Linked DNA regions of Homo sapiens: region 2 is linked to region 1. The links come from fine-mapping of genetic effects on gene expression. A gene starts in region 1. The other region holds a variant in brackets. All regions are shown on one strand. Distances are between the middles of the regions.

Region 1 (4,400 bases):
TAGTATTGTCTCTTTTCAGAAGATGGAGTTGGGAGAAAACACTGGGCAGCCTCTCAGCGCTCAACTCCCCAAACTGACCAGAATCTCCTTCAGCTGGATTTATAAAAAATGGTGAAATATAACTTTATTATTGCTTTTTTTTAAAAAAAAAGCTCCATGGGAAAGGATAAAAAATTTGATCACCTCTATATTTTAGTTATTGCTTTCTTTAGCTTTCAGAACTATGTGTAAGCTAACTGACTTTATGGATTTTCTCCAACTTTTCCTGAAGTATGAGGATTTTTCTAAAGGCCATGGGGAATCTGAACTTCGAAACTTAAATTCAACCTACAGGAGTCTTAGCTGCAGGGCTTAGGTGAACCGAGTGAGCCTGAGGGGACAGCAGTAGGATGGGAACTAGGCAGAACCTGGAAGGGCATTACTCAAACTGAGTAGTGCTGAGATCAGTTTGACTAAGGAGAGAGTCAAACTTAATTTTGAGAGGAATCAAGGTGACAGCCAGTATAGATAAGGTGAAGATCCGAACGGGAGGGTAGTGAACTTGGTAATGAGGTGAGTTAAGTAAAGGCAGAAGAGGGAAGAGTAAGGAATGGGTCTCTTAGGAGAGGGCCTGTGAATAAGCCAATTACTTTTTAACATAGTCCTTGGCATTATAGTAGGGATGAGCTCAGTGGCTTAAAAGAACCACATCAGTTTGTACAAAAAAGGAAGTCATAAAGAATATTTTAGGAGCTAGTATGTGGGCACCAATGTTGCTTGTCACAGTCATAGAGCTGTTGATTAGAATTGTGTTTAGTCTGAAGTAGGAATTGAGACTCACTTGCCAGAGGTTTCTTGATACATAGTGAAGGTGTAATCTTACTGCTGTGATGTTCTCCTTGGTGCCCTCAAGAAGATGATGTGCAGCAACCTTGGTGAATGTGGTATAGGAATGAGAGAGTAGAATTTGTCACAAAACAACTCTTCCTTGAAAGTAACCCACCAATTGATGATTATTGTTCATTTGTTTAATATTTATACTGTATTTGTTTTTAGTAATTATATTTGAGGCAAGAAGTATATAAGTTAGGCATCATGGAATTTGGGATGCATTTGTCCTCCCATGAAGAATGGGTAACATTGTTTCTTCAAATTGAGGACTGGAAACCAATGATGGATAGGAGTTAGGAAAATGGGAGTGAGAAACATTGAAAAGGAAGGAGAGGTAGAAAAATAAAATGAAACAGTATGACTGAAAAAGAATTAGAGAGGAGACAAGACTGTGTTGAAGAGGGTTAGGGCTGAGCCAGATGGTGTTGGCATAAGAAATATAGAGTATATATCAAAAATATAGAAGGAGATTCTGTCTACATTAATATCTTTGACTATTTCAGCTATTATGTTGTTTTGGGACAATCAAAGATGGGAGAGACCGAACAGAGTGAGTTCAGGAAAGGTCTTTATTAAAAGGTGATCACCTGGCTCAGTAGGACTAGCGTCCAGGAAAGTCTGAGCCCTGGACAAAGAAAGCAGCCACCTTTTAAGCAGTCAGTGGCCAGGAGCTACGTGATGCAGGAAGCGTACTTACAAGAGCGAGAACAAAGGCAGTTGATCAGTCTTTTACATTTATCTATGCTACGTGTTCCACATCCCTGGGAAACCATGTTTCTGTATTAACCTTGTAACTTTGCAGCTGCGCTAGGGAGGTGAAACAGGAACTCCCTGAGCCTCAAGGAATGTGAAACTAGCAAGTACAGATAAGGCTTGCTGAGCACAGAAGGAAAAACACGCTGTTAGTATTCTTCTCTAACTTAGACTACAGGGGAGCTACACTACACTTAGCTTTTGAAGGGAAAAGTAAAAATTTTTGGTTGTCTTTGATTATACTTGTAAAATTCATGAATTCATTCTACAATGTCAGCAAAAAAAAAAAAAATCAGTTAAAACAGTTGTGGGTACTTACGTAACTTGAGTGTTAAAAAATGAAAGCTTCCCAAGAACTAGATCACTTGGCTTCTTCTGGATTGGGGGTGGGGATAATGTAGGCAGCCAATCAGAACGAAAGCAGGCTGGCAAGAAACCAATGAGAAGTAGGCATGGAAATGGATTTTGGTGTGATATCAGTTGGTAGTACTGTCCCTGGCAAACAGACGCATAACTGTGCATTGTTCTTTGGGATTTTGAGAGCCTTCATCTCAATTTCAACTTTAAAGCAGCTTAATCTTTAAGGAACATATCTCTGATCTGGGTAATTTGTAGAACTTAATTTGAGGGTCATTACATGTGAGGATAGCAGGAGTTGAAGATGCCAAGGACCTGAAGGGCTACTGGAGGGACAGGTGAAGTGATTTGAAGATGTAGCATTTTGAATCTCTTTCTGGCCCATCCTCTGCTTCACACCAGAATCATTGTGACCTGTAGACCTGCAAAACAAAGGACCAAAGGTAAGCCTTAAATATTATTGGAGATACTTGAGGAACCTCTAGGATTTTTAGATTAAGGCTAGCTGCAAGGAAAAATAAAACAGAACAAATCTTTCTCAGGACCACTGCATAGATTTGCACAGGTTACATCCTACACAGAGCACCAGCTGAGGTGAGATACTGGGGCTGAAATCCAGCCTGGTAGTCACATGCCAAGCCATGTGCCTTGTTGACAGGCTTCATTGCTCTGAGGAAGGGGGCCTTTTTCTAATTCACTCAAAGGCATCATATGATCAAACCTTGGTCTTTTCCTTTATTTTCAGGTTATTCACCCTTATCCTCACCCCCAACCTTAACTGGTGTGACTCAACTTTGACTTTGTTTCCCATTTGCCATCTTTTATTGGAAGGGTGCTGAGAGAAGAAAAAGATATATTAGGGCTGGAGTGGTAAAATGGAATTCCAGAATGATTTATACCAACAGAGAAGGGGGAGCATAACATTTATCCATGCTCCTTCCCCCTCAAATAGTTCAGCCCATCAAATATTTTTGGACAGCCTATCTCGTGCCACATGCTATGTGCACAGCCTTAAGGAAAGTTCGGGCCCTGGCCTTTGAGAAACTCACTGTCCAATGGGGAAAGCAAGCACATTACTATATCATTACAATGGTAAGTGCACCTATCAATGCACCCCCTCTCCCATATACATGTAACAGTACAGGGAGTAAACACTAACACTGCTGTTAGTGTTCCTATAAAATGTTCTTGGAGCAAGGGGTAGGACAAGAGGTATTAATGTGTGCCCTGTGACAAGAAGAGACATGTTCAGATCTGAGTGTGGCACAATCTTAGGTAGAAATGGTATGGATGAATTGGATCTTGGTAGGTCTCATGTTCTTTTTGCATGCTATACAGGTTAGCATGCAGAAGTGAAAGTGTCAATAATAACCAAACCACTCCATCAAGTTAGGTCTGGGGAAAAGCAGCAGCAAAAATGAGTTCTTACTTCTGGGCACAAAATGAAAGTAACAGACCTGATTTACTCTGCGGGCAGCCAGCTGACTACCTTGTTGAAGAGAAACATTTCACAACGCTTGTATGCTTCATTGTTGTTTTGGGAGGTAGGTGGTTGTTTTTGAAACTCATCTTTCCTCTGCCCTGTGAACCTTTTGTCAATGCAGAAAGCCATCACAACTACATAACATCAAAAGAAGGGGCCCATTGAAACGATAAGACATGAGTGAATACTGTCAATCTCGCTTCATTTAATTATAAGTAGTGTCTATTCTATATTCCTGTATTCAGTGACATTTGCTGAGCATGGTAGTGTGGTAGACATGTAAGAAGAATAACTTAACTTCAAGAAGCCCTCTCATGGGAGAGATTGGCAAACACATAATTACTATGCAGTGTGTTAAGTATAACTATAAAGTTGTCGTCAAGATTCTCTGCTCACAAGGAGGAGGAAGAGCTGTACACTGCCTGCCTGGCCAGACCTAACCTGACCAAAATATCTGAGATGAGGGGAGGACAATGCGAGCAAACACACAAATAGAGCCCAGGCATACAATTCATGATTTACATAATTGATGTCATTCATTTTGTCCATTTTATTATGGCTTTTGGTGTAATCTCTCTTCAGGGAAGATAAATAACCCACCCCAACCCCAAGAAGGAAATTAGGAAAGGCTTCACAAATAAGGACCTCTTAAACAATGATTAAGAATTCAACAGGTATAGAGAATGATATTCATGCAGATCAAGTAACATATTCAACACACAGATGCTTTAGTCCACAATTCAACACTAGGGATTAGGAAAAAGGAAAAATAGCTGCTTTAAAATCCTTTCTGGAACTAGGAATACTATACAGAAGCAAATATGTATAAACTCCTTCAATTTTACCCATTGTATCAAAGAGTGAAATTGCTTTCTTTGGGAATCTTTAATATACTCACTAATGACCTTGGTCACTTTTGATATCACAAGTTGCTGAT
Region 2 (4,400 bases), 74 kb before region 1:
ATCTGTTCTGGTACCAGTACCATGCTGTTTTGCTTACTGTAGCCTTGTAGTATAGTTTGAAGTCAGGTAGCATGATGCTTCCAGCTTTGTTCTTTTTGCTTAGGACTGTCTTGGCTATGTGGGCTGTTTTTTGGTTCCATATGAACTTTAAAGTAGTTTTTTCCAATTCTGTGAAGAAAGTCAATGGTAGCTTGATGGGGATAGCATTGAATCTATAAATTACTTTGGGCAGTATGGCCATTTTCACGATATTGATTCTTTCTATCTATGAGCATGGAATGTTTTTCCATTTGTTTGTGTCCTCTTATTTTGTTGAGCAGTGGTTTGTAGTTCTCCTTGAAGAGGTCCTTCACACCTGTTGTAATTTTGATTCCTACGTATTTTATTTTCTTTGTAGCAATAGTGAATGCAAGTTCACTCATGATTTGGCTCTCTGTTATTGATGTATAGAAATGCTTGTGATTTTTGCACATTGACTTTGTATCCTGAGACTTTGCTGAAGTTGCTTATCAGGTTAAGGAGATTTGGGGCTGATATAGTTGGGTTTTCTAAATATACAATCATGTCATCTGCAAACAGAGACAATTTGACTCCCTCTTTTTCTAATTGAATACACTTTATTTCTTTCTCTTGCCTGATTGCCCTGGCCAGAACTTCCAATACTATGTTGAAATGGTGTGTGCCAGTTTTGTCTTGCACCAGTTTTCAAAGGGAATGCTTCCAGTTTTTGACCATTCAGTATGATATTGGCTGTAGGTTTGTCATAAATAGCTCTTATTATTTTGAGATACCTTCCATCAACACCTAGTTTATTGAGAGTTTTTAGCATAAAGTGCTGTTGAATTTTGTTGCATGCCATTTTTATCTCTATTGAGATAATCATGTGGGTTTTGTCATTGGTTCTGTTTATGTGATGGATTCTGTTTAATGATTTGCGTATGTTGAACCAGGCTTGCATCCCAGGGATAAAGCTGACTTGATCATGGTAGATAAGCTTTCTGATGTGCTGCTTCATTCGCTTTGCCAGTACTTTATTGAGGATTTTTGCATCGATGTTCATCAGGGATATTGGCCTAAAATTTTCTTTTTTTGTTTTGTCTCTGCCAGGTTTTTGTATCAGGATGATGCTCATAAAATGAGTTAGGGAGGATTCTATTTTCTATTGTTTGGAATAGTTTCAGAAGGAATGGTACCAGTTCCTCTTTGTACGTCTGGTAGTATTTGACTGTGAATCTGTGTTGTCCTGGACTTTTTTTGGTTTCACCATTTTTGTTTTTTTCTCCCCCTTTAAAAGGTATGAAATAATAAAGCTCTCTTTCAACTCATGTTCAGCTCAGTTAAGTTATTTTTCCCCACAGTTCTGTTTGTTGTGGCCTGGTGCTAACAATATTTTCTTAAAGGTCTAAAGGAAATGTTTTCTTCCAACATAATATCCTGTACACTGCAGAAGGTCTTTTCTTTTGCCTTTTGGTAACTGGCCTCACAGATTTTACGTCTTATTGAAATAATTCCTATGCCATTATTATTAAGTTTTACTTTGCTTAGGAAAAAAACCTGATAATTGTTTTTTTTTAAAATTAAGGTTATTACATCCGTGTATCTTTCTGTATGTGCTTTTAAAGTACTTGTAACACTAAGTTACAGGGATTTGACTCCTGGGTCTAAAATGGACACAAAGCCCTGCTAAGTCTTAAACACTGACAGCAGTTAAATC[C/T]TCATCTTCAGGCCCCATAGAGGATGCCAATCAAAATAAACTGCATTCCTGAGACAGAGGGCCAGAAATTAACACCATTCAACTCCTCAAGGTCCAGGGACTATTGAGGAAGAGGTGGGTGTGTGAGATTGTAAGGGCCCATTTTAAGACATAAAATAAGTACAGTTTCTCTATAAATTAACCATTAATATCAATGGCACACTGATGCAAGACCAGCATATGAGCCCCTGTGTCAGATTAATATGGTTTGTTTTTTAAGCATTAACCAAAACATTAATAAAGATTATAAAAGGCTTATGGAAGTTATAGCTTATGATCAAGATTAAAATTTTATATATTTATAAAAATTTGAAAAACAAATTTAATTGACTTCATGTTGTTTTTATTAGGGTTTATTGTTTGGAAAATTGTTTCCTCTCTCAAAATAAAAGTTTTGCACCTTTTTTTTTTTAAAATCCTTCAGTTATCACTTTGGTTAAATGAATGACTTATTTTACAATGACCTGTGATCCTATTTTGTAATATCAAGTGTTTTAAAGTTTTGATATTTGACAAACTTTCCAAAATCAAATTATAAATTATGTCTTTTTCTGACCTAATTAATCCTTTAAGATATTCCCGGTTCCTTAAAGTCCAAAAATGACATATTTGGCTTATTTGGTATAAAAATTATATAGGAAGCATTGTCAAACATGAAATGGTGTTTGGTTTTCTTTGGGCTGTATTTGTATAAAGATGTTATTGGCATGTGTTCAAAAATTATGGGAAACTCCTATAATTCTTTTTTTTTTTTTTTTTTTGAGATGGAGTCTCACCCTGTCACCCAGGTGGAAAACTCCTATAATTCTAATATGAATTAGTGTATGTTATCAGTAATAATTATAATTTTTATGGTAAATTATTGTGTGCCATAAGGTAACAAATTTCCTTGTCAATTGTATCTTTATGGCTGCCCTAAAACTTTTTGTCATCCATGAATGATTGTTGTCTTATTTTGGTCCTCTTTAAAAGGTGGTTTTATAATCAGCTATAAACTCTAACAGGTGCCCTTGAATGCAGGTTTCTGATTACTTTGGAGATTGTAACATTTGAACAGAGGAAAAACTTTCAGGACTCATGAAGAGCTGAAATGTTTATGACTATCAAGCAGAACAGGAATTAACCGCAGGGACTAAACTAATAGAAGTTTAAAGTAATCTTTTTAACTTTTTGTTTAAAACGTTGCTGATCCTTTGTTTTTCAGAGTCAAGAAAACTTTTAAGCTATTTACAGCTTTTAACAGTTAAGTGTACTCCTATGAACAAAAGTTGGAGCATATGTGTTTCTGTCTACCTGATTTCTACAGAATTTGGAAACTATTTGTGAGTATTCTTATGACAATACAATTATTTGCATAAGTGCAATAAGAATCTTTCTTCATTTTTAACAGGACACAATTGGAGAAACTGGTTATTTTACCAAGGCTTTGACTAAAATGGTGTGCTTTCATTTAAGGAATCAAACTTGACTTATGGAGCCAATAAAAGCCCCTTGGAAAAATTGGCCTCGTACCTTTTTCTACACAGTCCCTTTACAGGGTTCCTGACCTGTGGTAGGTAAAGAATGTCACTTTCTGACAGACCCAAGAGCCCCAAGTTTATCTTGGAACATTGAGAGGAGAGGAATTCACAACTCATAGGTATTTGATGGTACAAATCCATGGCTGGGCTTGGCTTTAAAAAAGTCATATCTGAGATTCCTTCTATGGACTAAAGTTCCATCAAAGCCAATTTAAATGCCTATGTAAAATAAAATTATTCTTGATACATTGTATACAAATAATCAGGTGAAGTGTAATAAAGCAAATCAGTCTTACCATGATTTGTCTTTAATAAAAATGGGAAACTGGATAAAGAAAAATTATGTTTAAAAAACTATAGTACACCCGTTGTTAGATTCTAGTCTTGCCTATTGTTTTTCAATTTTTATTATTTTCTACAGTTTGGACTGAATTCTAATTCTATTTTTTCTTTTTTCTTTTTGAGACAGAGTCTCCCTCTGTTCCCCAGGCTGGAGTGTAGTCACATGATCTTGGCTCACAGCAACCTCTACCCCCTGGGTTCAAGCAATTCTCCTGCCTCAGCCTCCTAAGTAGCTGGGATTACAGGCACCTGCCAGCATGCCTAGCTAGTTTTTTGTATGTTTAGTAGATACGGGGTTTTGCCATGTTGGCCAAGCTGGTCTCAGACTCCTGACCTCAGGTGATCCACCTGCCTCGGCCTCCCAAAGTGCTGGGATTACAGACATGAGCCACCGTGACTGGCCTGAATTCTAATTTTTCTTGGCTACATGCCTGCAAAATAATGTTTTCAATTTTTTTTCCTTCTTTTTTCTCCATTTTTCCTAATTTGGAGTCACTGAAAACTAAGCTATACTTTTTTTTAAAGCCCTGCGAACTGAAGCTAAATAACTTAAACTTTAGAGGAAAATAATAGCAACCTATTTACGTACATAAGCCACTTTCATACCTGCCTACTAATATATGGACTTCAGAGCAATATGGCCTATATTGATTTTCCAGGATCGTTCTTTTGTTTGTTGTTGTTTTTCCTCCTTCCTTCCCTTATTTTCTCTTCATAGGACATAAGACTTTACAACCTTCTAAAAATGAGCTTTCCTAATAACTTGGGACCTACCAGTCTAGGAA

Which allele goes with the higher level. Positions count from the first base shown, and alleles are read on the strand shown. Sizes are in standard deviations (SD) of each study's normalised expression.
In carriers of allele T in region 2, the expression in pituitary of the gene that starts at base 2,102 in region 1 tends to be higher than with C alone (large effect, 0.80 SD a copy in GTEx).

What was found. PIP is the estimated chance that this variant, and not a neighbour inherited with it, causes the effect. A credible set is the group of variants that fine-mapping cannot tell apart.
Region 2: its variant is the best candidate, but not a certain one, in a credible set for the expression of SLC9C2 in pituitary (GTEx, PIP 0.54).

The regions. Positions count from the first base shown.
Region 1 is chr1:173,600,774-173,605,173 of GRCh38, reverse strand. It overlaps SLC9C2 (solute carrier family 9 member C2 (putative)), which reads left to right and starts at 2,102. Exons shown (of 28, transcript NM_178527.4): 1 at 2,102-2,423; 2 at 3,319-3,524. The coding sequence starts at 3,398.
Region 2 is chr1:173,674,949-173,679,348 of GRCh38, reverse strand. The region is part of intron 2 of LOC105371619 (a long non-coding RNA gene); the gene reads right to left. It also overlaps a transcript of ANKRD45 not described here. Among named protein-coding and RNA genes, the nearest start is that of ANKRD45, 7.3 kb to the right of the region's middle. The variant C/T (reference allele first, on the strand shown) is at 1,715.